Linked DNA regions of Homo sapiens: all the other regions are linked to region 2. Evidence: fine-mapped expression QTL. A gene starts in region 2. Each other region holds a variant in brackets. All regions are shown on one strand. Distances are from middle to middle. Region 1 overlaps IQSEC3 (IQ motif and Sec7 domain ArfGEF 3). Region 2 holds the start of IQSEC3 (IQ motif and Sec7 domain ArfGEF 3). Region 3 overlaps IQSEC3 (IQ motif and Sec7 domain ArfGEF 3). Region 4 overlaps IQSEC3 (IQ motif and Sec7 domain ArfGEF 3). Region 5 overlaps IQSEC3 (IQ motif and Sec7 domain ArfGEF 3). Region 6 overlaps IQSEC3 (IQ motif and Sec7 domain ArfGEF 3). Region 7 holds the start of IQSEC3-AS3 (IQSEC3 antisense RNA 3).

Evidence for each region. PIP is the estimated chance that this variant, and not a neighbour inherited with it, causes the effect.
Region 1: its variant is fine-mapped to the expression of IQSEC3 in subcutaneous fat (GTEx, PIP above 0.99).
Region 3: its variant is fine-mapped to the expression of IQSEC3 in whole blood (TOPMed, PIP above 0.99). The same link has a PIP of 0.9 or more in T cells.
Region 4: its variant is fine-mapped to the expression of IQSEC3 in testis (GTEx, PIP above 0.99).
Region 5: its variant is fine-mapped to the expression of IQSEC3 in lung (TOPMed, PIP 0.98).
Region 6: its variant is fine-mapped to the expression of IQSEC3 in whole blood (TOPMed, PIP above 0.99).
Region 7: its variant is fine-mapped to the expression of IQSEC3 in lung (TOPMed, PIP above 0.99).

Annotation. Positions count from the first base shown.
Region 1 is chr12:132,700-136,762 of GRCh38, reverse strand. The region is part of intron 3 of IQSEC3 (IQ motif and Sec7 domain ArfGEF 3); the gene reads right to left. Among named protein-coding and RNA genes, the nearest start is that of IQSEC3-AS3, 14 kb to the left of the region's middle. The variant A/T (reference allele first, on the strand shown) is at 1,798.
Region 2 is chr12:64,765-68,827 of GRCh38, reverse strand. It overlaps IQSEC3 (IQ motif and Sec7 domain ArfGEF 3), which reads right to left and starts at 2,061. Exons shown (of 14, transcript NM_001170738.2): 1 at 1,392-2,061. The coding sequence starts at 1,945.
Region 3 is chr12:139,218-143,274 of GRCh38, reverse strand. It overlaps IQSEC3 (IQ motif and Sec7 domain ArfGEF 3), which reads right to left. Exons shown (of 14, transcript NM_001170738.2): 4 at 3,921-4,057; 5 at 1,990-2,151. It overlaps IQSEC3-AS3 (IQSEC3 antisense RNA 3), which reads left to right. Exons shown (of 10, transcript NR_033859.2): 3 at 1-36; 4 at 642-1,941; 5 at 2,031-2,363; 6 at 2,472-2,627; 7 at 2,905-3,035. Among named protein-coding and RNA genes, the nearest start is that of IQSEC3-AS3, 7.9 kb to the left of the region's middle. The variant G/C (reference allele first, on the strand shown) is at 2,499.
Region 4 is chr12:160,835-164,897 of GRCh38, reverse strand. IQSEC3 (IQ motif and Sec7 domain ArfGEF 3) reads right to left here. Exons shown (of 14, transcript NM_001170738.2): 8 at 2,833-2,972; 9 at 1,279-1,404. IQSEC3-AS1 (IQSEC3 antisense RNA 1) reads left to right here. Exons shown (of 3, transcript NR_183431.1): 3 at 141-278. Among named protein-coding and RNA genes, the nearest start is that of IQSEC3-AS3, 14 kb to the right of the region's middle. The variant A/G (reference allele first, on the strand shown) is at 2,258.
Region 5 is chr12:167,918-171,980 of GRCh38, reverse strand. It overlaps IQSEC3 (IQ motif and Sec7 domain ArfGEF 3), which reads right to left. Exons shown (of 14, transcript NM_001170738.2): 12 at 2,876-2,968; 13 at 820-869. The region is part of intron 1 of IQSEC3-AS1 (IQSEC3 antisense RNA 1); the gene reads left to right. Among named protein-coding and RNA genes, the nearest start is that of IQSEC3-AS1, 12 kb to the left of the region's middle. RefSeq lists a silencer at 3,170-3,643. The variant G/C (reference allele first, on the strand shown) is at 2,005.
Region 6 is chr12:125,094-129,156 of GRCh38, reverse strand. It overlaps IQSEC3 (IQ motif and Sec7 domain ArfGEF 3), which reads right to left. Exons shown (of 14, transcript NM_001170738.2): 3 at 3,245-3,524. Among named protein-coding and RNA genes, the nearest start is that of IQSEC3-AS2, 15 kb to the right of the region's middle. The variant G/A (reference allele first, on the strand shown) is at 1,911.
Region 7 is chr12:145,698-149,760 of GRCh38, reverse strand. The region is part of intron 5 of IQSEC3 (IQ motif and Sec7 domain ArfGEF 3); the gene reads right to left. It overlaps IQSEC3-AS3 (IQSEC3 antisense RNA 3), which reads left to right and starts at 592. Exons shown (of 10, transcript NR_033859.2): 1 at 592-682. RefSeq lists an enhancer at 3,595-4,063. The variant G/A (reference allele first, on the strand shown) is at 1,867.

The sequences.
Region 1 (4,063 bases), 68 kb before region 2:
AGAGAAGTTTGGGAAGTGCGAGTGTTTCCTATTCACAACCAGACATGCCACTTACACGTGGTGTCCTTCCCGAATGAACGAAGAATCGGGATGGGTGCGCTGAGATGAACGACTCAAGGCAAGAACAGGGACGTCCCGTGTTCTCCAGGGATCATGGGTGGGGAGGGTACAGATTGTTCTCCAGGGATCATGGATGGCGAGGGTACAGATAGAAAGGCCATACTTCATCCCTCAGCACAACACTTCAACCTGCTTCCTGCTCCACTGGAGCCCCCAAAGGCTGCAGCCAGAATGAATGCCTGCCTCCCACAGCCCAGCCGTGCCCTCTGCTCCCTCCCTGCAGGGTGTGATGGGTGCCCCATTCCACGCTAGCAGAGGTAGCCTCTTAGCTCAGGACACCTTGTGGATTCAACCCCAATCCCCAAGGACAATCCCAGATAAAATGAGACATCCTTAGTGCTTGCCTCCAGTGCTTCCAGCCTGGCCATTCCCATTCCCCATTCCCAAACCTGGGGACATCATTCTGTCTCCCCCAACATCCAACTCTACCCTTGGAGATCGTTGGAACTCACGCAGATTAATGTGTAAATGGCAACTAAGCCTTCCTATATGGCTTCTCCCAAAGTTACTTGCATTTCATGAGGGACAAGGCCCTGAGCAGGAGGAAGCTCCCAGTGCTATCACAATCCCCCTATTGGAGGGGTCTTCAAGGTGCTCTAAACCACACCAAGTGTATTCCTCATCTATTGCTGTGTAACACATGACCACAAATCCAGCCACTTAAAGTAGCACCTGTTTATTTCTCATGCAGCTCTGTGAATCTAGTCTGGGCACAGCTCATCTGGGTTATCTGCTCGGGATCTCACCAGGCTGAAACCAAGATATCAGTCAGGGCTGCAATATCATCTAAGGTGTGGGGTCCTCCTTTGAGCTCGCTCTTGTTGGCACAATTCAATTCCTTGTAATCACAGGACTTAGGCCCTCAGTCACTAGAGGTTGCCTGCTGTCCCCTACCATGTGGCCTGCTTCATAACCTGATAGCTTGGTCCTTCAAGGCTAACGGCACAGTGTCTGTCTGGGGCTTCAGCTTCATTTATAGGGCTGACCTGATTAGCTCAGACCCACCCTGGGTGATGTTTCTTTTTATTAACTCAAAATCAACCAATTGGTAACCTAATCATTGGAGTGATGTCCCATCACATTCACTCATCCTGCCCATACTCAAGGGAAGGGGATTATATAGGATGTGTACACTAGCATGAAGGGGACTTGGGGGCCATCTGAGAATTTTGCCCACGGTACGAACTGGACACTTCCCCACTTGATCTTTACTAGGTATGACCTCATGCACCCATAAGAGACACAGATACTTGCCTCTGAGGCATTCTGTTCCTGCTCCTGTGGAAATAATGTAGCTTGGCTCATTCTCCCTGCTGAACTTTGACACATTCCCTGAGGCCTGGAATAGGGACTTGGCTTTGGCTCAGGCAGGAAAGTCCTTCCCCAAGGGGAAATGTAGAGAGGAAGGGGAACTGATCACTAAAATGTCTCCTTTTCTCTCAATTTCTGTCTGTCAGCCCTATTCAAGCACCATGAGAAACTGACAGATTTCACATTTCTTTTTTTTTTCTTTGAGATGGAGTCCCGCTCTGTCACCCAGGCTGGAGTGCAGTGGCACGATCTCGGCTCACCATAACCTCCGCCTCCTGGGTTCAAGCGATTCTCCTGCCTCAGCCTCCTGAGTAGCTGGGATTACAGGTGTGCGCCACTGTGCCTGGCTAATTTTTGTATTTTTTT[A/T]AGTAGAGACAGGGTTTTGCCATGTTTGCCAGGCTGGACTTGAACTCCTGGTGCCTTGGTGATCCGCCCACCTTGGCCTCCCAGAGTGCTGGGATTACAGGCGTGAGCCACCGTGCCCGGCCAGATTTCACATTTCTTTCCCGTCTGGCCTATTTATACCCCACCTTGGCCTCCCAAAGTGCTGGGATTACAGGCATGTGCCACTGTGCCTGGCTAACTTTTGTATTTTTTTTAGTAGAGACAGAGTTTTGCTATGTTGGCCAGGCTGGACCTGAACTCCTGGCACCTCGGTGATCCGCCCACCTTGGCCTCCCAAAGTGCTGGGATTACAGGCGTGGGCCACTGCGCCCGGCCAGATTTCACATTTCTTTCCCGTCTGGCCTATTTATACTTCTAGGAAAACCCCAGGCCCAAGAGCATCCTTTTGCAGCACGAGATGCTGTTGGCAACACAGGGAAGGTATGAAATCCATTGCTTGAGATGCTTCCAAAATGGTGATGGGGTCCATGCCCTTGGCATGGTATCATCCTGCTTGAAGGCAGAAGACCAGCTGACATAACCCTAGGAGACTCCGTGTACTACTGGGCAATGTCTATGCTTCACCCAAGCAGGAAAGAAAACCAGATTTTAAATTCTTGCATCTGTCCCATCACATCCTCTACTAGACATCAAGTCCCACGAGGGCAGATTTCACCTGCCGTGGCCACTGCTATCTCCTCCAATGCTTGGACAGTGCCCAGCACATAGTGGGCCTTCAATGAGTGTGTATTCGACAAATTAATTCCAAAGTTATATTTGTGACTCTCAAAAACCTTCCTAATCTGACTCAGCAGACGCTCTCCCGCTCCTGCCTCCTTTGTGTGTTCAGCTCACCCTACACATGCTCTTTTTACTCCCATTTCCTTCGTCCTATCTGCAGCTTTGCACCTGGCCACAGATCTCCCCAGGCTACAGCGTAACTGCTGACTCCGCTGCCGCTGGGGCACTAGCCTGTTCCCTTTCTTCCTATTTTACACTGAACCTCCAGAACAATAACCTCTGCCTCACTCCAGGAGCAAATGCCAGATACTGACCCAACCCTGCCCTAGCCTGTTCCCTTTCTTCCTATTTCACACTGAACCTCCAGAACACTAACCTCTGCCTCACTCCAGGAGCAAATGCCAGATGCTGACCCAACCCTGCCCTAGCCTGTTCCCTTTCTTCCTATTTTACACTGAACCTCCAGAACACTAACCTCTGCCTCACTCCAGGAGCAAATGCCAGATACTGACCCAACCCTGCCCTAGCCTGTTCCCTTTCTTCCTATTTTACACTGAACCTCCAGAACACTAACCTGTGCCTCACTCCAGGAGCAAAGGCCAGATGCTGACCCAACCCTGCCCTGAGCCCTGTGCTCTGGGTCCTGCTGCCTCCCATCTCAGTCAAGGGCGAGAGATGTTAAACTCATCCAAGGCCAACCAGCAAGGAAGAGGCAGATCTGGGGCTTGTCACTCAGCCCCAGGGGCCTCCTCAGCCTCCCTCCTGGCTCCTTTCTGCAACTCTCCCCAGTGCTCATGACTCAGTCTATCCTGGTTGTCCTGTCTCCCTACAACCCCTTAATCCTGTATTCTGGCCACAAAACCCCTACGTGTGCTGATTACGAGTCACATGGGTGCCACTGCCAGTCTCCACACGTTTTAATTTTCCCCGTACACTCTGGACATCATCCACGGCTTCTGTGTTGGACATCATCAGAGGAGCCCGTGATGGGTGATAATTAACAATGAATTAAGAAGGGAGCTGTGTCAGTCAGAGCCTTCCAGGTCACTGTAAACGTGCTCCCCAGGTGGATACCTTCTCAGCCCTGTCTGCCTTCCCTCTGAGGACCCAGTCCACTCTCTTAACTTCTACTTTGATGGGCCAGTGAGCAAGTGGCAAGTAAGGGGAATGGCCAGCCCCAGATCCCAGCTGATTGGACTTGGATGAATTTAACATCTTTGACTCTCAGTTTTCATATCTATTAAGTGGGGTTTATCCTGCTGACCCTGTATCTTCTTGTGAGGATTAAATTATTTCATGGAGCACCCAGCAGAGAGCAGGAGCTTCATAAGTGGTAGCTGCTTAATGGTGACAGTGACAATGATGGGAATGACTCTCAAGCCTCCATACCTAGCCTTGATCCTAGACCCACATTTCCAGCAGCCTGTGTATCCTCTGTCCATCTAGGCTATGCCACTGTTTTCCCTACCTCACCCAAACCAGCTCTTGTTGACTTCCTTATTGGCCT
Region 2 (4,063 bases):
GCTCTGTGAGCTACCCTGCCCTAACCCAACTTCTCTAACTCTACCACAGATGGTAAAAGAAAATGAGTTTTGAAGGAATACAGCAAATATTCACAAGTATCTCCCAGACTTAATGCACCTGGATGAAGATGAGATTCTCAGCTCTACTTCCCCCTCCCCATTCCCTTATGCATCACCATTGTCAAGGTCAGGTGCTGACCAGGGACAATTTCCCTTGAACTGTTCTTTGTTTAGTTCTCCATCACTTGCCTAATCAGAGAAAAGAAGCAGACATGGCCACAGCCTTTCCAGTACAGAGGAGAGAACATCCCAGACACTTTCATATCTTCTTCCCATATTCCTAGTTCATGGACCTCCTGAGTGAAGAAAGAGCTTGAAGTTCTAGGAACTGAGAGGTTAACATTTCTCTCAGGACCCAAGGCAAGATTTCAGTGATCACCAGATAACCGGGAAAAAAGGGTTTGCAGTTGCTGGCCTTAACAGGGAGATTTAAACAGGCATGGCATCTGAATACCAACTCCATCTGCCAACTGTCCCCCATGTCATTGCTCCCTTTCAACAACGGCCAAACACCCTGTATGAAAAACCCTCCTTGAGTTGGAGGAAAAAGCTGTAACCAGACTGAGTCCTCAAGCCATGCCTGAGTCCTCCATTGGTTTGATGGGATGTTCCCTTGCACCTCTTCGGCTCTGCGGGAATTCAGAGGAAGGGTGTCCAATCAGGTCAGAGAAGAGAAAGCTTCCCTAAATGAGCCACTCCTAGCTGTGGCTCCCACTTCACCAGCTAAAGAGCCACATTTTCTCTTCCTCTGCCTCCAGCTCCCTTGGTTTCCCACATCACTCCTGCTTTTCAGGTTTGTCCCCGGCCTCCTGGATTCCCCTCTACCCCAGTCCTACTCTTCCTGGGCCCCAGCCTTTTTAAAGCTCTTCACATGCCTCTTTCCAAGCCTTCAGCTTTTCTCACATCTCAGTCTCCATGCAAATACTTTTACTACCCAAACTTCCTTCCAAATTTTTTCTCACTTAAAAAGATTCCTTCAATGGTTCTCTTTTCTACAGTTTAATCTTCACTCGAACTTCAACCCAGCCTAACCCCGTTTAAATGCTGTCAGTTCCCAGTATCACCAATCGCTTAACACCCACCTCCTTCCTCCTTTGCTCCTACTAATGGTCTGGTTACTCCTTTTTGCTCCAGCATTCCCCAAAACCTTCTCAAGCAGGGATATCGTTCCCTCATTTACCCAAAATCTCCTTTGCACACTTCTGGCGCCTTCAGGCCACATCACTCCGGTCCTTTAGACTCCTACGCACCCAACGTCCCCGTCTCTCCCTCACACCCACTTGCTTCCCTTGCTCCCACCACAACAGTGCCCATCTCCTCTCCCCGCTCACTCAGGTCTCCTGCTCAGGACGCCCTTGCCGAGGGCGGAGGGGGATTTGTGCTGAAGGAGGGCTCCGGCAGCAGCGCAGCAACTCGGGGGACGCTCCTTCTCCTTGTCAGTCACGGCCCCTTGTGTCCCCAGATGCTTGTGGGGCGACTGGGGTGTGTGAGCCCTGCTGCCAGGGCCCCGCTGGGGCTGCTCCAGGAGCTGTCCGTGGTGCTGACGCGGCGGCCGATCGGGCGCGGGATGCGGCGCGGCTGCTGAGCGCTGTCCCTGGTCCTGGAGAGGTTCCTGGGCCCTGGCGGCGGCGGCAGGAGCGGTGGCCGGAGCGGCCGGCAGCGGGGCCGATGACGGGGGGACGAGCCCGGGCGGAGGCTGGGCTTGCAGCAGCTGCTGGTGCTCCCACAGGCTGCGGTTCTCAGCGCTCAGCTCGTCCAGCCGCCGCTCCAGCTCGTCGATACGCTCTCGCTGGGTGTGGATGAGGCTCTGCTGGTTCTGCACGATGGCCGTGAGCTCCTTGAGGTAGAGCACGGCGCGCACCGGATTCTCCAGCAGGCTCTCCATGCCGCCCGCCGCCGCCTGCGCCCTGCCTGCGCCTGGGCTGGCGGCGGGGAGCGCGAGGGCGCGGGAGCCCAGCAGCCCAGCGGTCGGCTCGCCTCCCTCTCCCACCGGCCCAGCCTCCCTCCCCCCGCCGGCGCCGCGTCACTGCCACCCCGACCTTCACACACGCATCGCGGGGCGGGGCGGCTGCGCAAGGCCCCACCCCCACCCCACCCCCTACCTCCAGACCTCCCCAACTCCTCGCCTCCCCACCTCGCTGCCTCTTGGCGTCAGCGAAGGCTCTGCTGCCTGCAGGGCAGAGAGGAGAGGGAGGAGGCCAGCGAGAGGGAGCCTCTGTCGGGGCGTGGGAGGAAAGCAAGATAACGCAGGCGACCCGAGAAGGACGGTGAATCTGACTGGCCAGACTGGGAAGTAGGCGAAGGGGAAGCAGCGATACTGGGAAGGTGCGGTGGGACCTGTAGGAGAAGAGAAACAGAAAAGAAAGGAAGAGAAGGGGAGAGGCCAGCAGAGAGGAAGCAGAAAAAGGGAAGGTGGGGCCAAGAAAGAGAAATGTGCTGGAGGACAGGAAGGCGTGGGGCCCTGAAGGGACGCGAATTCTTTTTTCCCAGGTCCAGGCCTTCCAGAGGCTGGGGTTCATCTAGAGACCTGCTGAGGAGGGGCCACACTCGCCTCTTTTGCTCGCAGCAATCTATTCTGCCAGGGGATTCCCTGGAACACAAGAATCCTGGGGCTCTAAGGGACCCTAAAGAGCGTCTGGTCCTGCTCCTTCCTTCATCCGTGACGAAACTTGGGATGGGAAGGCTGTTCATGCTGGGTTTCCTCTGGGAGTGAGACCTCAAGACAACTGTGGCAGTTCCTGATAGAAACACTAAATAAACGAGGTCCTCTGTGGCAAGGGCTAACGCTTCCAGAAGCTTCTGAATAGATCATTCTATTTGACAAACAGTTATAAAATGCACACTATTACCAAACACTGTGCTAGATGGTGGTAAGAGAAGCATGACTAGAATGGAATGTTAGGCTTTTTGAAGCTTATAAATAAGTGGGTGAAATTGGTCATGATTAACTTTGACGTATGATAGTGGTGGTGAGTAATCAGGCAGAGGTTTGCCCAGAGTGCTATAGGAGCCAGCAGCTTGGAGATCCAGGGAGGCTTCTTACAGGAAGTGACCCTTGGTGTGGGAAGGGTTTTCCATAAAGGGAAGACAGCATGAGCAAAAGCTCAGAGACATTAATCAGCACCGATTGAATCATTCATTCATGTCTACAATAATCACCACTCACTAGGTGCAAAGTAATGTACAGAATCTATGCAAGCCACATCTAGCATAGATAATAAGTTATCATTTCTATAATCAAGTTGATTCCAATCTCATAGAGTAGATATGCCATGCACATGAATAAGTAAAACACAACTCAAGATTTCTGTAAGAGCTCTTCAAGCCAAGTGCCATAGAGTTCAGGGGAGGGAGAGGATTCATTTGACTGTGTTGATCTGATAAGTTCTGACAGAGGTGTTACTCAAGTTGGGCCACGAAGAATGGGAAATATTTCAACAGGTAGACAGAACAGGGGGCCAGATATGAGAAAGATACATCAGGCAGCAGGGAAAAAACTAATGAATGGAAATAGAGCACTTGGTTTAAATTAATTTGGCAGGGAAATATCCCTTTCCTTTTCTTTTCCTTTACTTTTTTTTTTTTTTAAAGTCTTGTCTGTCACCGAGGCTGGAGTGCAGTGGCAGGATCATAGCTTACTCCATCCTTGACCTCCTGGGATCAAGGAATCCTCTAGCCTCAGCTTCCTGAGTAGGTGGGACTACAGATGCATACCACCATGCCCCGTGAAGGAAATGAGTTGTTCTTTCCTCTTTTATAGGAATGGGATGGGAAGGAGGAAGGGCTATGAGTACGCTTCGCATGTTTGTTATTGTGTTGTTCCGTTCTTCACACACATGTCCATCAGGCTCCCTGTCAACCTTCCATTCCCCCAGGGTAGGCATATTTATGGGTACCATGTGCCCAGTGAGCTGGCCCACCCCCCACCACCACGTGGTGCCAGACTTGAATGACCTTATGAGAAGGAACTTGTGCTCTGCACATATATTGGTTTATCTGCATT
Region 3 (4,057 bases), 74 kb before region 2:
GGCCCCTACCCATCCCAAGCCTGATCCCTACCTAAGGTTAGCCCAGCCCCCAGCCCCCAGCCCAGCTCCCCTCCTCAGCACAGGCTTGCAGCCACTGCTCCAAGCCTCCAGCCCACAGCCCATACACGCAGCCTCCCAGGGAAGAGGGCAATTAGTTTCCATTGTGCGACTCAGCACCACCTGGGCTGCAGGAAAACGCTGTGTTCCCAGCACTCCAGATCAATGTGGGCCTTGCAGGTTAGAATTTAGGGCGCAGGCCACATGGAGACTGGGAAAGACAGAAGAAAACAGACAACAGTCAGGGCCTGTGGGTGAAGCAGAGTCACTCCTGCCCCCAGAGCAGAGAGACAGCAGGGGTGCCTGGGGCTACGGGGCCAGCACCTCACCCTGGCTTGGGAAGGGATGGACTGGGACAACAGTGCAGGAAAGCCAGAGAGATGAGCCAACTAGGGGACACAGAAAAGGAAGGGCGTGAGGAAATGCCATCTCTCCCCTTCTGCAACCTAGATGTATCCTGGATCCCAGTAGCACCTCCATGGGCCCCCACAGCAGTGCTGGGGAAGGGAAGGGAAGCCGGAGGGAGAAGAGAAAGGAGGTGAGAGGGAGGCGCTGCCTAGCATTGTCTCTCTTTCCTCTTTGAGGTCCACAGAGCGTCTCCACCAGCAGCTCCAGGAGGGATGATAAATTGTCAAAAGCCACCAAGAGTCAGGGACAGGAACTCAGTTCTGCCCAGCTGAGGGCTGTGCAGGGATTTCAAGGTACCTGTGCGAACCCCAGCCCTCACTCATTGAACTCAGTCAGAAAACCACCGCGTCAGTGGATTTAGAAATGTGACAGGGATTTCAGAGGGCAATGGGTCCAGCCCTCACAACCCAGCACCACTCTGCAGGCATGGAAACGCAGGCCCAGAGGACAGGGGCTTCTCAATATGGGCACACAGCACCAAGACAGCTCCATAAATAGAAGTGAAATATCCAAGCTCCCACTCCAGGGAAGCTGACCACTGGGTGGATGACTCCCCCAGCGTCCAAACCCTCTCTGGCAGTCCCTTGCTGCTCCAGGAGCGAGGATGAAAGGGAGAGCTCTTCCCAGGGCCTCCGGGGAGACACTTCTGCTGACTGTCCCCAAGGAGAAAGAGGGGAGAGAAATGAGGGAGGGTCCCTGAAGAATGGAGACCTTCAAGAAGGAGGCCAACCTCGGGGACCAGTGGAAGCCAGAAAGAGCACGGGGGCATGGCAGGGGCTGAAGCCGATGTCCCAGGGAAGGAGTAGCTGCAAGGCCCCTCAGCCTCAGAGGAGCGCCAGCCCCGCCCTGCCATTCTGGACAAGGCATGAGTGTGAAGAGACTCTTGCCTGTCCACACTATCAAGGCTGAGCGGGGGCAAAGGCAGCCCCCTGGGGGTCCCCACCCTGCTACTGGACTTTAAAACCATTTTCTTTGGTTTTAAAGAAACAATTTTTCTTTGGTCATGATTTTGTTGGTAGATTTATCTTTATGGAATTGTAGTATTTTCTTGCTCTAAAACCCTCAGTTTAACCCCTTCTTTTTTCTGTCTCACATTTTTGCCTCCAGCGATATGAAAATGAACCTTGGAGAATGGGAGGGTCCTGGGGGAGGGGGGCTGAGGGGCTCTTCACCAGGCAGAGATGAACCCCAGTGCTGACACAAGCCCTTTCCTTTTCCTGGTTTCTCTTGCCCTGGAGAGTGACAGGCAGAAAGGGCTTTTTGTCTCTTTGGACCATTTCTGTATCCCTGCTGCCTCAAACGAAGCCTGGCCTGGGGCGAACTCAATCAATGACTCTGACGGGAGACAGGGCTCCGGCCCACTGGGGTGATGGGCTAAAGAGGGGATTCTGGTTCCTGTGGACAATCTGGAAGCTGGAAGCTGTTAGAACTGGAGCGAGGATTTCACCAAGGAGCTCACAGAGAGAGCCCGGGCAGGTGGGGTGTGGGAAGGAGTGGGGAAAGCCCGGAGTGTGGGGTACTCACTCCAGCACGTCGCGGTTGAACTGCTTCTTGCTGTTGCCCAGGAACTCTCCAATCATCTGGCGGCTGAGGCCCTTTCGCTGGAGGAGGAAATGGGCCACACCGATGGGGGTGTCCGGGATGAAGCCGCGTGAGATCAGGAACTGGATGCCCTTGTCGGGGTTTCTGGAGGTGGGGGTGGGGAGAAGCAGTAGAGAGTGAGCTGAAGCCATCCATGACTCTTTCCTCCCTGTCTTCCACCCATAGAAGTACCCAGAGGTTCTTGGAAATCCAGTTCCCCATTGAAGCTTCTCTCACCAGAGCCTCAACCCACTGAATGTCCTCACGCAGAGGATGGTGTGTGACCAGAAGGAGGACAGGGGAGATCTGCAAACAAAGTGAATTCCAGAGCAGATGGAGGAGAAGTACCCTTCTCTGTCCCTGCCTCCTGGGTCTTACCCCAGTCCTGCCCTTCCCCCTACCCATATCCTGTTGTCAATATGCAGGTCCCCACCGCAGACGCCCCAACCCTG[G/C]AGAGAGGGTGGGAGAAACAGAGGTGAGACCTCCGCCACACCACCTCTTCCCTTTGCAAGCTTTGAAGCCATGCTGCTCCCTGAGCTGTTCCTCACAGGTCCGGGAGGAGATAAGTACAGAAACACAAGGTAAGCACTGAGAACCTCCCATAGCATTTCGACATTTTCCGGGACAGCCAGGCATGTGATTGTCTTTCTAGCACCTCATTTTTATTGTATTTTACAAAAGTATTAGCCCACAATGTATTTTCAGAAGGGTGTGGGGGAACAAAACTGGTTCTTCACTATGGATAGTTTAAGAATTCCTGTCTTGGGGCAGATGAGTGTCTGTATGAGTTTTCATGTGCATGCAGAAGAGACACTGCAGAAGTGGGAGTGGTTCAGAGTCAGATCCGCCTTTCCCTAGGTCTGCCGAGTACTAGCTATTTCATCGTGTGCATTTCGCCTTACTGGTGTGAGCCGGCTTCTTTTCTGTAAAACAGCATGGTAATACCTCTGTGTAGATACTGCTGGAAGATTACAGATGCTTTATGTAAGGTGAGCTATGAACAGTAGCTACTTCCCCTAGAATAGGAGCCTCTTGAGGCCAGGGGATGTGTCCTTCTCACCTCTGTGGTCACAGTGCCTGGCACCCAATAAATAACAGCCGAATGAACGAATGAACACGCATTAGGGCCGGGGAGATGTGCTCTTGGCGCAGGGTTATGAAGGGGCGAGTGGAGGATGGAGGCGAGTGCCTGCCTCCTGGACCTGACATTTCCATGGGAGGGGCAGGTGTGCTTCCTTTCCTCTGCTTGGGACTGGCTGTATACATTCGGTGCAGGACCAGTCCCGGTCTCGCTGGGGTCTCTGAGCTATGGCGGTCGGTCATTTCTCCCCTGTTCTCTTTCTCCTGTGCCTCTGCCTGCTTCACACTCTCTCTTCCTCGTAGCCCTCCCCTCTCCTGCTCTCAGCCGGCATTCTTTACGAGGCGCCTCTCCTCCCTCCCCCACCCAGCCTCGCATTTCACCAACCCTGGGAGCTAATGCGTTTTCCCTGGCTTCATATCCACCCGAATGATTGCTGCGTAATCCTCAAACGGCCTGGACTGTTATTTACTTAATACTGTCTTTTCTTTTACATTCTCTTACTTTTCAAACCCTAGCTTCATCTTAAGCTGTAACAGTTGTGAAAGCATGTGTCTGATGTGTTATTTTTTTCCTTTAATCTTTCTTAAAATAAACTCAGGATGATTAAAATAAAATATGTACTTCCTAAACATGACCTCAGGGATCAGGCACGGCACAGATGCGCCTGCCTGGAGGACCCTGGCATGACGTGGGAAGTTACCTGGCGCCCTGCTTGGTGGAGGGAAGGTGCCCTCCTCCTTCCCTCCCTCCCAGGACGCCCAGGACTCCGGGCTGGGGGCCGGGGCTGACTTACATGTTGAAGAGGTTGAGGCCGATGCGGTAGAGCCGCTTGCGCAGGGTGTCGGTGGAGAGCGTGGGCGACTTGCAGCTGGCTGGGTTCTCGCAGTGGTAGCGCGGCAGGCTCAGGATCATGGCCTGCAGGGCGTCCTT
Region 4 (4,063 bases), 96 kb before region 2:
GGCCTTCATAGTGCCTTCCCCCAATCTGATATTATCTTGTTTGTCTGTTTCTTAATTATTTTCTATCTCCCTCCCCTACTAAAATGAAAGCTCGTTTTAGTAAAGTCATCTGGTTGCTTAATAAACAAATTTCTATTCAGCAGCTTCTGTGAGCTGAGCCCTGGAGATACAGGAGAACTCAGGACAGAGCCCCTGCCCTTAAGGTGCTTATGGAATGTGGAGTGTCACAGTGTCCATCAGGTGATCAAACAATAAAGCATAACAGCAAAAAAACAAAACCAAAGTGCTACGTGTTTTGAAGAAAATGAAACAGGGTAAGGAATCAAAAGTGATTTGAGACTTGAATGAAAAGGAGGAGGCCAGGAAGGCAAGAGGAGAGTGCAAGGTCTGGAGGAGCTTTGCAAGAAGGAGCAGCAAGTACAAAGGCCTGGCCCACAGGAGGGAGGCGCCTCCCAGGGCTGAGGAGAGGGCGGGGAGGCAGGTTAGGGAAAGGGGACACGTGGCCTGATGTGCACTCCAGAGAGATCACGCTGCTGCTCTCAGGGGGGTGGGGAGAGCCGTGTGGAGGCTGATGTGGTTCACTGAATGTACCAGGCGTGCACTAAGACTGTAGTAGTGGAGGTGGTGAGAGGTGGTTCAGGCTTGTGATCACTTTGGAGGCAGTGCCAACGTGGCTCATGGATAGAGAGGGCCGGTGCGAGGGAGACACAAGCCCTGCTCCAGTCCTGCTCACCAGTTTTCCAGACCTACAATGATGCCTGGCACATGGTCAACGCTGATCAAATATTTGTTGAATGGATACTTCTTTTCAAAGAGCAAAAAAAGTATCTGTGGGTACAGATGTGTGTATGTGTGTGCACGCACACACACACACCAGCCTCGCCTAGGCCCAGGGACAGAGCATGCTCCGCCTAGGCCCTGCTCCTCCCAGGCCCTGGGGTCTGAGGCACAGCCCTGTGCACTCCCTGTCCTGGGCTTCCTGTAACGTGGAGAGGCCAGTGGTCTGGGAACTAGTTCGTTAACAGTTTGTGCAACCACGAGCAGATCATCTGACGTCTCGGTGTCATGACTTATGAGGTAGGAATTAGCATGTCTGCCTGAGCCCCCTCACGCCCACGGTGTGAAAGCACCATGAAGGCAGATCCGTCCCACGGAACAGGCATTCTGTCTGAAAGCTCTGGGCGTCCTTTCCTGCCCACTTCAGGGACCCTGCCCAGGCTGACCAGGGCGGCAGAGGCAGCCCCAGCCCAGCCCAGTCCCGGAGCGGAGGCCACTCACCACCAGCAGGTCATTGAAGAGGAACACCTCCCTCTGATGCGCTGCCTGCTTCTGCAGCTTGTTCACATCCGTCACCTCGAAGAGCCGGCTGCAGCACACCAGGCGGCGGTGGGGCACGGACAGCACCTGCACGCGGGCAGGGCGCTCAGCGGGAGAGACCAGAGGCCTGGAGGCCTCCCCACCCACGCGCCCATTTTCCAGAAGAGGAGACAGCCCGGGAGAGGGGAGGGGCCCGGTTCTGTGGAGGGAGGAGAGGGGAGGGGTCCGGTTCTGTGGAGGGAGGAGAGGGGAGGGGTCCGGTTCTGTGGAGGGAGGGGAGGGGAGGGGTCCGGTTCTGTGGAGGGAGGGGAGGGGAGGGGTCCGGTTCTGTGGAGGGAGGGGAGGGGAGGGGTCCGGTTCTGTGGAGGGGGAGGGGAGGGCTCCGGTTCTGTGGAGGGAGGAGAGGGGAGGGGTTCGGTTTTGTGGAGAGGGAGGGGAGGGGCTCCGGTTCTGTCCTGGGGCCTGGACTTGACTCTCATCCTTCTCTCTCCTCGTCTGAGGCTCTTTCCCTCGCACGTTCACCCCCTGTCCCAGGGCTCATCCCTGTCATGCTTCTTGGGGAGCACGGCCAGAGAAGGGGCCCACTGAGCCACAGTAAATGAGGGGATAGAGGGACAGGAATAGGAAATTGAGAAGAGCTTGCAGGCTGTTCCAGTCCAGCCACTGTCAACCTGCTTCCCTCCGTAACCTTGAGGGCATCCCCTGCCCCAGGCTGCGGCCTGCAGATATGACACCTCCACCCTTTCTATACTGCAGAGATGCAGGTGTGCGAGAGCGAAGGGATCACAGAGACACCTGGCATCTACTCCAGCGTGTAAGACAAACCAGTCGCTTGCAACCCGACAGATGCTGAGACCTCAGCAATAAAGGCTCTCAAAGCAGAAAAGCCTGTCCCTGCACAGACTGGGAGGAGGGAGCCCAGTGCAGGGCCTCAGAAGAG[A/G]TCTCCAAACTCTCCCACACCGTCCCCTGAGGCAAGAATATGAGGAGGAGGAACTGGAACCCCCATGACATCCTTTATAGTATAAAGTGTAGTAGCCTACAGAGAAGTCCCACTTTAAAAATCATGGCAGGCTTGGAACATGCTGCCTGGGACACAGGTCACTACCAATAGGACAAATCTATGGTGATGCCACAGCCTGGAGCCTATTGAGCCCATTTCCTGCCTTCCACTCATCAGGACCATCCAGGAATGCCTGGTAGTCATGCTGTCCTAGGAAAGGGATACTAAATCTCATCTGGCCACCCAGATGCTTCCACCCTAGACCACTGGGCAGTCCTTCCTGACATCTCATCTCCGTCTCTCCTGCTGCAGTATCGGGTGGCAAGAGGCAATGAGGAAATCAGGCAAGAAAAAAAAAAAGAGATGCAGTGTCTGGCACACAGTAGGTACTTCATAACTATCATGTGAATGAATATGAAAAAAGAGTTTTGGAAAGGTAAGAAGGAGAATGGGAAGAGATGCCAGGAAGAAAGAAAGGAAAGGAGACGGGAGATAGGTAGCTTGTGGACACTCACTGTCTTCATGCCCACAATGGACTTCTCCACCTTGGTGACGTACGTGACGTGGTCCTCATTGGACTTGAGCTCCTTCTGCTGTATCCTCTCATAGATGCCTACCACCAGCTCCCTGGGGATGTCAGCGCCATCGTCCACACCTAACAACGTGGAGTGGGCAGGGGTGGTGGTGGGGTTGGGAGGGAGGGTGTCAGAGCCCTGGAGCCAGACAGAAGAGACCCCCATCCAGCCTGGAGCTCCCGGGGGGTGGCCTTGGTTCTTGCCATGCCTTCAATGGCTGGTGCCTCATACCCATTCAATTAAGAACAAGTTCCTTAGCCAGGCACCAAAACTAATGATATGGCCCCAACACACATCTCCTGCCTCACCTCCTGATGTTCCCCAACCAGAGTCTTCACGCCCACCTCCCAGGCCTCTTTCCTGATGGCAGATACAGCCTCCATGTTCCTGCTAACCCTGTGCGCCTCTGCAGTTCTGTCGTCTTCCTTGTGTTCGTCTCACCCCCCAGCTCCACCCCACCACTCCAGCATCATAAGGAGCTTCTGTTTCGTTCTCTTTTGGATCTTCCTCCTGCTGGGCTCTCCTCTCCCCTCCAGTAGGGAGCATGGCATTGAGGGCTTAGTCTTTGAAGAGATTCCTCCCTCACTGGGAGCAGTGGGGGAGCAGGCAGACCCCTGGCAATGCAGGCGAGGACACCCCTGTCCCACCTCCTGCTTCATAGTAATGATAAAACTCGGGCAACAAAAAAACACTGGCAGGAAATATGCCAACAAGAAAACACGTTTCTTTTGGAGAAACAGGCGATTAAAATATCTTCTTTCTACTATTTCCAAATCTTTCTTTAATGACTATACGCTTCTTTTATAAGAGGGAAAAATTAAAAATAAAACAACTTTGGCAAGCATCTCTCAAAGGAGTGTTCCCAGCTACTGAAAGGACACCCCGCCTTCCACACGCAGCTCCCGGCCTGCTCTGGTCTCTTCCACGTCTGATCTTGGTTCTCGAAGTCAGGCAAATGAGCCATGCAGCAGCCAAGGAGGCTGAAAGAAATCAGGCGGCGGGTGAGAAAAACCAAGGAGAAAGGCTGAGTGTATGGATGCCCCCAGTTCAAGGTGGCAGGCTGCATGCCTCTGCTGCTTCTGAATACTCGGGAGAAAGGAATCTTTTAGAAAAGCATACACCCACAAAGACAGAGAACAGGGGCACAGGCACCCCAGGACCTGGCAAGTGG
Region 5 (4,063 bases), 100 kb before region 2:
ACGAGGCTTGTAGGGGCACCTGCACACTCCTCCCATAGGTGGCACTGGGGGGGTTTGGCAGGGACCAGCTGCTGCTGGGTCTTCTGCAGTCCCTCACTGTATGGCATGGAGCCAAATGGGCAGCCTCCCCTCCACCACAGACAGTCTTCAGCTTATCACTTCCCCCAGGACAGCCCTCAGGACAGCCCCACCCTACTCTGTCTCATTTTCTTTTGCACACACATCCCTGCGCCATGGCCAGCTTTCCAGATGGACCAGTTGTTCCGGGGAGGAGTTCCCCCTCCCACCTGCCCCCAAGTCTCAATTCTCCAACCTAGCCCCAGGTGTCCAAGAGGGCAGGGTCTGCCCCAGAAGTGATCGTTTGGGGCCTAAGGGGTAATTCTCCGAGGGAGCCCAGGCTCCCCGCTATGGATGGTGGGAGGACTTGGGGAACGGGATGTGGGGTCTTCTGATACAGCAAGTACTGGGGGAGCAGTGAGCAGTGAGCATTTGCTGGGGAGGTGGATTTGGGGGCACACAGGAAGGATGGCCCTAGGGTGCCGTGAGCTCCGTCTCCACTGTGTTAGTCTGGGAGCTCGGCCTCGGAGGGCAGCAGGCTGGGGAAAGGGGAGAAAGAGCTCGTGGCTTAATTAGGCGCTGGAACAGTGGCATTACCCATGCTAGCAGTAACTTTTAATTGTATCTCTTGAAATTGGTAAAATGGTGAGTCGGGCTGGGGAGGCATTGATTAATACCTGAGAAGAGAAACAACAGAGACGGTGAGAAGAAGAACAAGGGGGCAGGGTAGTCACTCACCTGGGCAACCAGGGCTCCACTTACCTCCACCGTGCTCTCCGCCGGCCTCTCCCTGAGCGCGGCTTCCCTTTTGGCTTTGAATGCAAAGAGCACAGGGCTCATTCTCCACCGGCTGAGCCAAGCCCCTGCCCCTCCCCTGTGCCCCTCAAGCATCTCTGCAGCTAAGACTTGGGGTCACACTGCTCCTCACTGAGGCGGAGGTTGGGAGCCCCACTCTGCCACTTAGGAGCTATGTGACCTGGGCGAGATGCTACATCTCTCTGGGCTGCCGCAGACTAGAAGATCGCTGCCGCTCTTTCTGATGTTGGCATTGTGGAATCTGATTTACCCACAGTCAAAGCCTTCCCAGTACGAACTGTAAAAGGCTTGGAGGGGGCCTGGGTTGTGGGCGCCACGTTCATCAGCCTCCGTGGATCACAGGCTCCTTGAGCGTGGGCCACGCTTCTTTGCTCCAGCCCTGCAGACTGGCTGAGGGGGCAGGACTGAATGGGCTGAGGCCTGCACAGCACTCACCGCAGTGCCGGGCACGGTGAGAGCCGATAACTGCTCTGTAATTACTCTGAGGGCCTTCTGGCCGGCCTGGCACAGCAGCAGGGGCCCTGCGGACCCCCACGGACAGCTCATTGGCTCTTTGTGGCTGAGTCACTCCCAGCTTCCACCCCGACCCCCGCAGGAGCCCCTCTCATTTCCCAACCCCTGGGGGTGCCAGCTTCCCCCTGCTGTGCTCAGCCCTCTGCTTCCTGCAGCAGGAGAGGGAGCTGCACCATTGTTTGGGAATGAGAAAGACCCCGCTGTGGAGGGGACTAAGGGACACGTCCCTGGGGACAGGCATCTGGGCCTAACCAGGGCGGGCAGCTTCCAAAAGAGAGGCAGGAAGGAATGGCAGGGAATGACACACAGCTGAGGGCTGGCTCTGGGGTTCCACAGCTGAGAAAACAAAAGCAGCAACCCGTGCCCTATGACCTTATAGAAATGAAGAGGCCAGTGGAGATCAGGCAGCGTGGAGAATTACGGACGCACGATGGCAGGTCAAACCCATACAGGAAAGATTCCATCACAGAATCTCCACATAGCGAAAAGAGCCCCATGTCCTGCTTGGAAAGTGAATCTCATGTCCTCGCTGCCGTAACTAGTCCCCACGCTGCTGCCTGTTCCAAGTCAGGACTCAGGGCCGACTGTGGCGGGTCATGGACCACACGGGGCCCACTG[G/C]AGCTTCTCAGCTCAAGCTGGCGTCTCACTATGACCCTGGCTTTCCAGTGTTCTGCACAGGGCAGCAGCCATTCGAGAAGTGTTTGTTGAGTGTGAGAGTAAGTGACCGAGTTAACTAATGGGTGGACAGTTGTGAATGGCTTGCTGGGATTTCACTGGGATGAGACTGAATTCTCATGCATCTCCCCTCATGCTCTTTATTTGGGGCTGGTGGAGGGAGGTGGTGGAAACCTTTCCTGGCCCCCTGCAGGTGGGGTAAGGTTGGGGCAGGCCAAAGGAGGGGCCAGCTCTGGAGCCAGTGTGACTCGGCTGGAGTGAGCAATTCCACTGGAGAAACCACTAGAGAAGTGGAGTTTGAGGGTCTCTCTGGATTTGGGGTGGGCTGACCTGAGCCAGGGGTCAGGAAGTGCTTGTGGCTCATTAGAGAAGGGACTGTACAGAGAAGAGCAAGATCCAGATCCTTCTGGTCACCCTGCCCTCTTACACTGCCTGGTTGGAGAGTGTTCCTCGTGGGGCTTCTCTTGACCTCGCCTCGTCCAGACAGCCTGGCTGCAGGAGGGAAGGCCTCCCTGCAGGGGCCAGGATGCCAGGACTCTTGCCTGACTCCTCCAGGGCAGACAGTGACATCTCACACGGACTCCAGACCTCTGGTGCAGTTTGCAAAATGGACAGACACATTTCTCTCTCGCCTTCCTCCTCACTCCCACCACTAAAGCTCATGAGATTAAAGAAGGCAAGCCTGGCGCTCCTCAGCAGGAAGAAACACGCCACGGGAATGGGCACCTCTCCCTGCAGATTGCCCAGGACCCACACCCAGGGTCCCCGAGTGGCCTCCATGGGGACTGGTGCCCTGAGCGGAGCCGAGGCTCACCTGTCGGCGATCCTTGCTTTGACTGTGGGTCCCCCTGGGCTCCGCAGGGCTTGAAGGAGAGTGTCTTTGTTCCCTGCTGCTTCTCCAGCTCCCCTAAGGAATGCAGAGGCCCGTGAGCAAGAGAAACCTTAACCTCAACCACACAGAGGCGAGGCAGGAAATGAGGGGCCAGCAGAAAGGGGAGGAAGAGGAGGAGAGGTCCCAGTACATGCTGTGAAACACGGACCTCGGGTCTGGCCCCACCACTGAATAGCAAGTTAAATACCCCCTCGGAGCCGCAGTTTCGTCATCTGTACATGGGGATGATCCTATCTGCTTGAACGTCAGAGAGGCACAGAAGAGGCCGATGTGAGGGAGGTGAACTGCCTGGGTTTGGGTCCTGGTCCTGACACTCCCTGGCTGTGTGGTTTTAGGCAAGTTACCCAACCTCTCCATGCCTCACTCGAGAGGACAGCCAGGCCCACTTCACGGTGTCATTAAGAGGACTGCGTGGGAGATACACATAAAGCACAAGGCCTGGCTAGTGACCTGTACTCCTTAAGTATTAAGGTTTGTGCGAAAGTAATGGCAAAAACCGCAATTACTTTAGCACCAACCTGTATCAGTTTTGTTACATTGTGTGAAACGCACTTGGCACAGCAGAGCCTGCTGACAGGGGTGACACCCACCTCTCCACCCGGCGCCTGGGAGGACGGAGCCTGCCTGGGAGGACAGAGCCTGCCTGGCCAGCTGAGCCTCCGCAAGGTGTTCAAATCTCTCCCAAGGAGGAAAGTCCACACCGAGGGTGTGGAAGCTACAAGCCTGCAGTGCTAGGACATCTGTCTAGGTACTCAACTTTAATTCCTCTCACTGGATTGGAAACCTGTTCCTTCTTGTTCTTCTCTCAGTGGAGCTACAGAACTGCCGGCTGCCATCCTTGGAGATTTGACATGATTATTAAATCACTCCTCCCGCTTCTCTTTTCCAGGAGACATAACTCAAGTTCCTTTTATTAAAGCTACTCTCCTGGGCTCCATTTTCAGTCTCTCTGGTTGTCTAGAAACCAGGGACACTGAACCGTAGGCCCCCAAACCAGAACAATTTGTCCTGGTTGCCTAAATCACACCATCCCATCGATCAATGCTAAATATTTCTACTCAACTGAGAGTTGTTTCTCTCCCCACAGAGGGGCTCTCTTGGCTTTGGAGA
Region 6 (4,063 bases), 60 kb before region 2:
AACAGCTCCCACTCCCAGACAGCACAGAGGAGGCAACAGGCAATGGGTAAAAGCACGTGCCTCGGCTGCGACCTGAAGTATGAGCAGAAGTCTTCCAGATGCAGCAGATGGGGTCGGGGACAGGTGAGGAGAATCCCCAGGAGAGGAAACAAAGCCACACAAAAGCCCAGAGGTGAGGGTGGCTTGAGATTCGGGACAGCAAATAGGAACGGCTGGAACCCCCATGGGGCTGGGACTGTGGCAGGGAGCCTGGAGAGGCCTCTGTCCTGCACACCGTGAGGAGCCATCAGAGGCTTTCCCGAGGATCAGCGCGGTCAGAGGTGCACTTTAGGAAGATGATTCAGCTGCAATGTGGAGGTGAGGTTGGAAGGGACAGAGCTCAAAGAAGGGGAAGCACAGGAGGTCTCCCGGCGTGCAGGCAAGAGGAAGGATGGCCTGGCCTCCTGGGGCAGGGGCACTGGGGAAGGCAAGAGAGGGTGGGATTCGGGAACTGTTAAGAGGCAGCATCAGTGGGGCTTGGGGCTAGAGCAGAGGCGAAGGAAGGAGAACAGCCAAGGAAAACCGTCCTGGGGATCTGGACTGGCTGACAGAGGAGGCTTGGCGGGTCGGTGGGCTGGGGAGCTAAGATTGTCCAACACCCCTCCCAGGCCATGGAACACGGGATTCAGTGTGGCTGGCGGAATCACTGGGTTGGAATATCAAGTGTTAGATCTCAAAGAGACCTAAGGCAGAGTCAGTTCCTGGCGCCATGCTGTATACCCATCCCATCCCCCTTTATGTCACTAAGTGATCATTTCCCGTCTCTTATCCTTCCAGCAGCTTCTTCGCCAGGCACTGCATTAAGCACTGAGAATATAATGAGGAACAAGTCATGCACCTGCCTTCAAGGAGGGGGTCAAGCAAACAGGAAATGCTGACACAGGGCTGAAGGGCTGTGACGGGGACACCCGGGCCCTGTGGGATGACTGAGAGGGACACCCAGTGCAGGCTTGGGAGGCAGGGAAAACTGCCTGAGAGGAGGAAGAGGTACCTAAAGCAAGTACTAAAGCAAGAGAAGGCCAAGTGCAGGGGTGTGGAGGGGAGCGGAAACTTCAGAGATTGAGGCCAAGGGAAGAGCCTGTGAAGTCCCAGACATAGGAGGCAGCTGAGGCCAGAGAAGTCAAGCAACTTGCCCAAGGCCATACAGCTCATGGCAGAAGAGAGAGGAGTCGAGTTCAGTCTCCTATAGATGTGTGCCATGTTCAACAAAAGCCAAAGTTGACAAATGGGATCTAATTAAACTAAAGAGCTCCTGCACAGCAAAAGAAACTACCATCAGAGTGAACAGGCAACCTACAAAATGGGAGAAAATTTTCGCAACCTACTCATCTGACAAAGGGCTAATATCCAGAATCTACAATGAACTCAAACAAATTTACAAGAAAAAAACAAACAACCCCATCAAAAAGTGGGCAAAGGACATGAACAGACACTTCTCAAAAAGTGGGCGAAGGGCCTGAATGTCTTATGCTAGTGCTGTGGGGTTTTCGAAGCTGGGAGCAGAATTTTAGATTTTTCCACATTTCATCCGACTTTTTTTTTTTCATTAAAACCATCCTTCTGTCCTGATGAGGTGTTTTTTGTTTTGTTTTGTTTTGTTTTGAGACAGAGTCTCACTCTGTCGCCCAGGCTGGAGTGCTGTGGTGCAATCTTGGCTCACTGCAACCTCCGCCTCCCGCATTCAAGGAATTCTGCCTCAGCCTCCTGAGTAGCTGGGATTACAGGCATGCGCCACCACGCCTGGCTAATTTTTGTATTTTTAGTACAGACAGGGTTTCACCATATTGGGCGGGCTGGTCTCAAACTCCTGGCCTCGTGATCCACCCGCCTTGGCCTCCCAAAGTGCTGGGATTACAGGTATGAGCCACCAC[G/A]CCTGGCCCCTGATGAGGTTTTTACAAAGTCTGGGATGCTATCACCAAGGTATCAGCTGTTCTCTTTCAGCTTTATGTCATCAGAAAGCCAGGTGAATGTAACTTGTATGCCTCAAATTGGTGCCTTATCAGTGACCTGGACAGCATGTCCACTCAACTCCCTGGGATTTTTTTTGATGAATATTTTTTGGATAATTCGGTTTGAGAACAACCCTCCTTACTATATTGTTAGTAATCCACACATTCCTGGCATGTGCACATAGGGTATCTTGGGGGATTTGGTCAAACACTTTACTGATGTGCTGCCTACAGCTGGCCTGAGCCAGGATATGAGCTTGGCATCAATGCCAAGAGAGGAAGGAGGTTAGTTTGGCTTGACTCAGTCTTAGTGGCCTTCCCACTAGCTTCCTTTCTGAAGATACCTTGCCTATTGGGTTGAAGAATTGTTCTCTAGAACCTACACATTTTGGGGCAGAAGGGACCTTGGAGGTGATTCAAAGTTAATTCTCATTTTTTTGCAGATGAGGAAACGAATGCCCAGAGGGTTTAACTGGCAACTCCCAAAGTCACTGAGTTCATAGGAGGAAGAGCGAGGACTGGATCCCATGTCTACATCTCCAAGTTCAAAGCTCTTTCCTTAACAGTATCACACCATCACACCTTTCTCTAAGCGCACACACACACACACACACACACACACACCTTCCATCAAGACTCTTGTCTGCCAAGACAAACTGAGGCATTATCTTTTTTGGGGGTTCAATGGGGGCCCCACAATTGGCCACTTTCTCTTCCTGAATGGAAAATGGAGGCCCAGGCCCCTCCATGGAATCTGTTCTCCAATAGAGGAGCTTTGGACTCCCCCAGTCTGGACTGATCTTGGGAATCCTGTCTGCTTCGAGGAGACCATTGTCTTTGTGCCTCGTTTGTGCCTGTGGGTGCCTAACACCGGCTCCCTTGGTGGGCGTGGAAGCTGGACTATGGCCTCTAAGCAGCAGATGGAGGTGGGGACACCCCAGAGAACAGTGGGCTCCTTGCCTAGTGGTCAGTGGGGCGGTGGAGGCTTGCTGAGCACTGTGTGAGGAGCAGAGCCCCTGGACGTGCTGCCCAAGGGCCTGGCATTGCGAGGGTATGAGCCCTGCCATGGTAGAAGGCAGAGGCCTGTGGCTGGTCCAGGGAAGGGCAAACTAGGTCGCTCAATGCAGGAGAACTGTGGCAAAAGAGGTGTGCCTGTAGCGGAGGGGACCCAGCGGGGATATCCCTGGTACCCTCGACAGCCCCCAAAGCAGGGCCCCTTCACCACCCTCCCCGCCCCCCTAGGAGGCCCTGGGTACCTGTTTATTCTTTAGGTCAAGGGAGAGTTCGTAATCGGAGGCGGCAGGGGCGTGGGGGCACAGCGCCGTCGCCAGGGCAGGCTGCTGCCGGCCGGGGGAGGCCTTGTGCTGGGGGCCAGCCCTTGGGGAGGCAGCCCCTGCCCCCGGCCGCTCCTCCTCCTCCTGCAGCTCCTGGGCTTGAGCCTTCGGGGCATGGGCACTGGGTCTGCCGGCTGCCACCGCCGCCGCTGCCACCACGGAGTCCTCCATGCCCCCACCGGCCTGGGTGCAGGAGCCATCACTGTGAACAGAAGGCAACGGTGCTCGGTTGGGGGAGAGGGCGACAGGGTGCGTGTGGATGTGGGGGTCGGGGAGAGAAGCTAGGCACTCTGGCCTGCCTTTCCTGTGGCAAGGACTGGAGGGGGTGTCTTTCACAGTCTCCTCTAGGGAGGGGCTACCATGGCAGGGATGAGCCCTGGGCACGGAGAAGAACCCGCACCTGGGGAGGCAGCTCAGACAGAGGGAAGGGGCAGCTATGGCCAGGGCTCAGGAGCCTCTGCTTAGAAGCAGTATGGCAGAGCGGTGCATCTGGGCTCTGCCTCTTACGAGCTGTGTGACCCTGAGCAGGTCACTCAGCCTCATTGCACCTCTGTTTCTCCATCTATAAAATGGGCACAGTAACAGTACCTACCTCACAGGGATACTGGCGGCTGAAGTTACTTACAACTCTTTAAGCTGTGCCTGAGTCATGGTGACTGCTACATGTGTTACCTATTGTAAGTATCGGTGGCCCGGCTCCTTGGGCACAGGCTCAGGTGGCTGGGGAAGCTGATCTACACT
Region 7 (4,063 bases), 81 kb before region 2:
TTAGCTCTCATCCTCTCTAGGAGTCTTCCCTGACCTCCGTTGTCCCCGGAACCCACCTTCTGTCGACCATTGCGTTTATCTCCCTGTGTCATAACATTTGCCTGCCTGTCTTCCCCACGAGGCTACGGGCTCCTTCAAGATAGGGCAGTTATTTTAATCTCTGCCTCCCTGGTGTATGGGCACCCAATCACTGTTTTGTGGGATGAATGAATGAGTGAGTGAGAGATGACCAGGAATGACTGCATGCCGGCAGCTGGAGAAGGAGCCTCAGTGGCCTGTGCCTTTGGAAGTTCTACCCAACGGCCCAGGATTACTCAGCCTGCTTTGCTGCCAAGATTATCTGGAGCTGACACCGAGACCTGTGATGGACTTGCAAATGGCCCCGAGGCTTCCAGACTCCAGGCAGTGAGGCAGTGTGGAGGGCATAGGCCCCCTTCCTCCCACTGCACATGCAAGTGAGTGAGTGCTGAGAACTAGAGCAATGGGCACCGATTAGACCGCTTCCAGCCAGGCATGACCGGACCTGTCTCAGGAGGTGCTGCTGACGGGCGCGTGGATCACGAGTGGTACCGGTTTTGCTAAGGCCTCCCCCTCTTTCCTGTGAGCTTCTGCAAGGTCTGCAGCAAATACCTCACAAGCGTTGGGGAAAAAGGATGTATGTTCCCTGCCTCTGAAGAAACAGGTACAATCTTGCATAAAATTGCTTGTTAACATTGATCTGTGCGTGGAATCAGTTTGTGTTGCAGGGAAATGAAGCGTCCTACACGCCTGTGATCAAAATGAATTTCATCATCTCAACCTTCTTTTTTTTTTTTAATGATAGCAAGACAGTGTCTGGCAGACAAAGGAACTGGTTGGGAGCTGAAAATAGGTAATGGTAGCAGCAGGGATTTTTAATTGGCTGGAAGAGACGGCGAAGATCTGGAAGGTGAAGCCCTAGCTCGTGCTCCTGGCTGAGACTAAGCCCAGGTTTCAGGATTAGGAAGGAAATCTAAACCACCTATTGCCACGGAATGTAGAAACCCTGGCTTTATTTGGCAGTTGTTGGCTTCTACAATTCAATTAAAAATATCCCCATCCTCCAGAGAGTTATTTTATTCGTCAGAATTCATAACATGCTCAACAAAGGTCAAGGCGTTTTGGCAAAGTGCGATGCGGCTAAGAAAATAGAAGAGAAGGAAGCTGATGCAGGATCTGCCAGTGTTCCTGGTGATGTCATGAGGACGAAGAAACTCTCTTTTGAGGGGGCCTGGGTAGGGCTGGCTGCCACTCACACCTTGAGACTCAGGTACCCAAAGAACTAAGTTCAAACTACCCTTACAATTTAGAAGCCCTGAGCTGATTTTTCTTTTGCTGGGCTCGGCAGCATCCCTGTTTGCTGGTGGGTCTCAAACTGAGTGATGCATTGGAATTGCGTGGCGGGTTTATTAGTGCACGGATTGCTGGGCCCCGAGCCGCAGAGTCTGATTCAGTGGGCCTGGAGCGGGAACTGAGAGTTTGCATTGCTAACAAGCTTCCAGGTGAAGCTGACGCTGCTGGTCCAGGGACCACCTTTTGGAAGCACTGCTCTATGCCAATAACAGTGGGTGGATTAAGAAAAGGCCGTGGAGCTGTTACTTCAAGTCATGGAGCCTCTTGGTGGCTCATTTCCTCACCTTGAGAATGGAGACAACACTGAGAACATCTACTGGGCAGGGGTGTTATGAGTGTTAAAGGAGGCAGTGGGTGTGAAGTTCCTGGTATACAACAGGGCTTAATACATGATCATTTTCATTAGGTGTGGGCTGACCCGCCTGTCAGTGGACAGGACCCCTCCCTGCCCCACCGACTAATTCTGCCTGGAATTGTATCATTAGACAGCCATCC[G/A]TCGGCCCTTTAAGATATACATGCACCAGAGAGAGGAAGCTAAATCTGGCTCAGACCTCTTGAGACTTACGAATCAGTTTCTCAGCTGTGCTTTCTTCCCAAATTGAGAGGATCGGGGCATAGCAAATAACGCCAAGGTAAGAGGTGGGAGAGTACCTGATTTTGTTCAATTTCTCTGCCGCTGGCCAGGAGACTAGTCATTTCTTTTCCCCAGGGCCTCAGTTTCTGCCAGGGTAAAATGAGAGGGCTGGACCAGCTGATTGTCTAAGGGGTCTTCAGTGTCATGATTCATGATGGGGGACTGACAAGGACTGTGAGAGCAACCGGACCACAGGGGTCCTGGAATGACGCACGGAGGCTGGATGGTGCAGGGTTAAGGGCTCAGGTGATGAGTCATTGTGCCTGGCTTCAGACCTCAGCCACTGATCAGCTCTGTGACTGTGGGCAAGCTCCCCAACCTCTCTGTTCCTCAGTGCCTTCATTGGGTACAGATTAGCAGCACGTCCCTCCCGGAGTCGCTGTGAAGATGGAACGAGGTTTTGCATGTAAGCCTCTCAGAACAGCACCTGTGGCACACAGCACATGCTGATCTGTGTGAGCTGGCATAATATTTCACGGCCTGCTTGGTCACAAACGGCCCTCCTGGAGATATGACAGCCCTGCCCTGGAGACAGTGACACCCCGGAAGACCCTTCTAGAAGGCCCACGTCCGAGTGGCCTGTTGCAGCCACAGCTATCACACAGAGGAGACTGACTCCTCCAGAGCAAAGGCCTGAGTAGTCAGGGGAGGACTGGGTGGCAGGTAGGTCCATTTTTATATAAAAGTCCAATTTATATGCCAAAGTGACGAAGCCAAAGGGAGTCTCAATCCTGGACTGAAGGTCCCAAGGTCTCCAGCTACAGAAGTAAGTAGGTCTTAAACTCTCACAACTGTTGACTGTTCAGGAGAATCCCTTGTCTATCTGTGGTGGGAGTGGGGCAGGAGAGAGTGGAGAGGTGAAGGGTCAAGGCCATAACCCCAAAGACACCACTTTTGAAGATGTTCTCCTTCCAGCCTTCTGGTGCTGGCAGTGTACCGTTTCCAAAGCAGTGGAAATGACCCTAACTCTTCTATTCCTGCCTGCCTGCACTGGGTCTCTGTCTCTCTCTATCTATCTCTCTCTTTCTTCCTCCTCCCTCCCTCCCTCCCTTCCTCCCACTCTCCTCTCTCTCTCTCTTTCTCTCTTTCTTTCTTCTTTTTTGAGACAGGCTCCCACTCTGTTGTCCAGGCTTCCAGGCTAGAGTGCAGTGGCACGGTCACAACTCACTGCAGTTTCCATCTCCTGGGCTCAAGTGATTCCCCTGCCTTGGCCTCCCGAGTAGCTGGGACCACAGGTGCCCGCCACCACACCTGGCTACTTAAAAAAAATTTTTTTGTAGAGATGAGGTCTCTTTTGCCCAGGCTGGAGTGCAGTGGTGCCGTAAGAGCTCACAGTAGCCCTAACCTCCTAGGTTCAAGTGATTCTGATGCCTTGGCCTCCCAAAGTGCTGCGACCACAGGTGTGAGCCACAATCCCTGCCTGGGCCTCTTTTTATCTCCTCCGGACACATAAGGTCTGCCTGGGCCCCAGCCTGCTCTCCCCTTCCTCATGGGAATTCCTCAGGAATAAGGTAACTGAGATTATACACAGCAATGTGGGCAGGACATTCTCAAATGATTTCTTCCTAGCAATGAAAGGCCAGAGCCTTCCAGACTGTTGAATTTGACAGACAATCTGTCTTCATTTCTAAACGTCCTCTAAGAAGAACAAATCTGTTATACTCTGGCCAACATATTTCCATGGAAATAAAATAATGAAATCTGACCCAAACGTCAAACCCTGATATGTCTTGGAATTTAACAAAGGATGGAGCAGACGCAGTGGAGGGAAGGAACACCCAGGAAGCTTTCTTCCGGCAGCTCAACCCAGAAGCTGCCTTCCTGCATTTCATGGAGATGGTAGACACCAATGCTCTCCACGTGCATGGGATTCACACCAGAAAAAATCATCCAGGCCAGAAAGAGGCCGCTCACAGCCAGCATGGAACGTTCCCCATCCGCTGGACTTTAAACCTGCTGAAGCGAACATTTCAGAAAGGAAATAGAGCAGAGCCAAATTCCCCAGCCATGTGAAAACCGAGAGGGAGAGGCTTCCAGCCCTAGAGGGCCCTAGCTCTG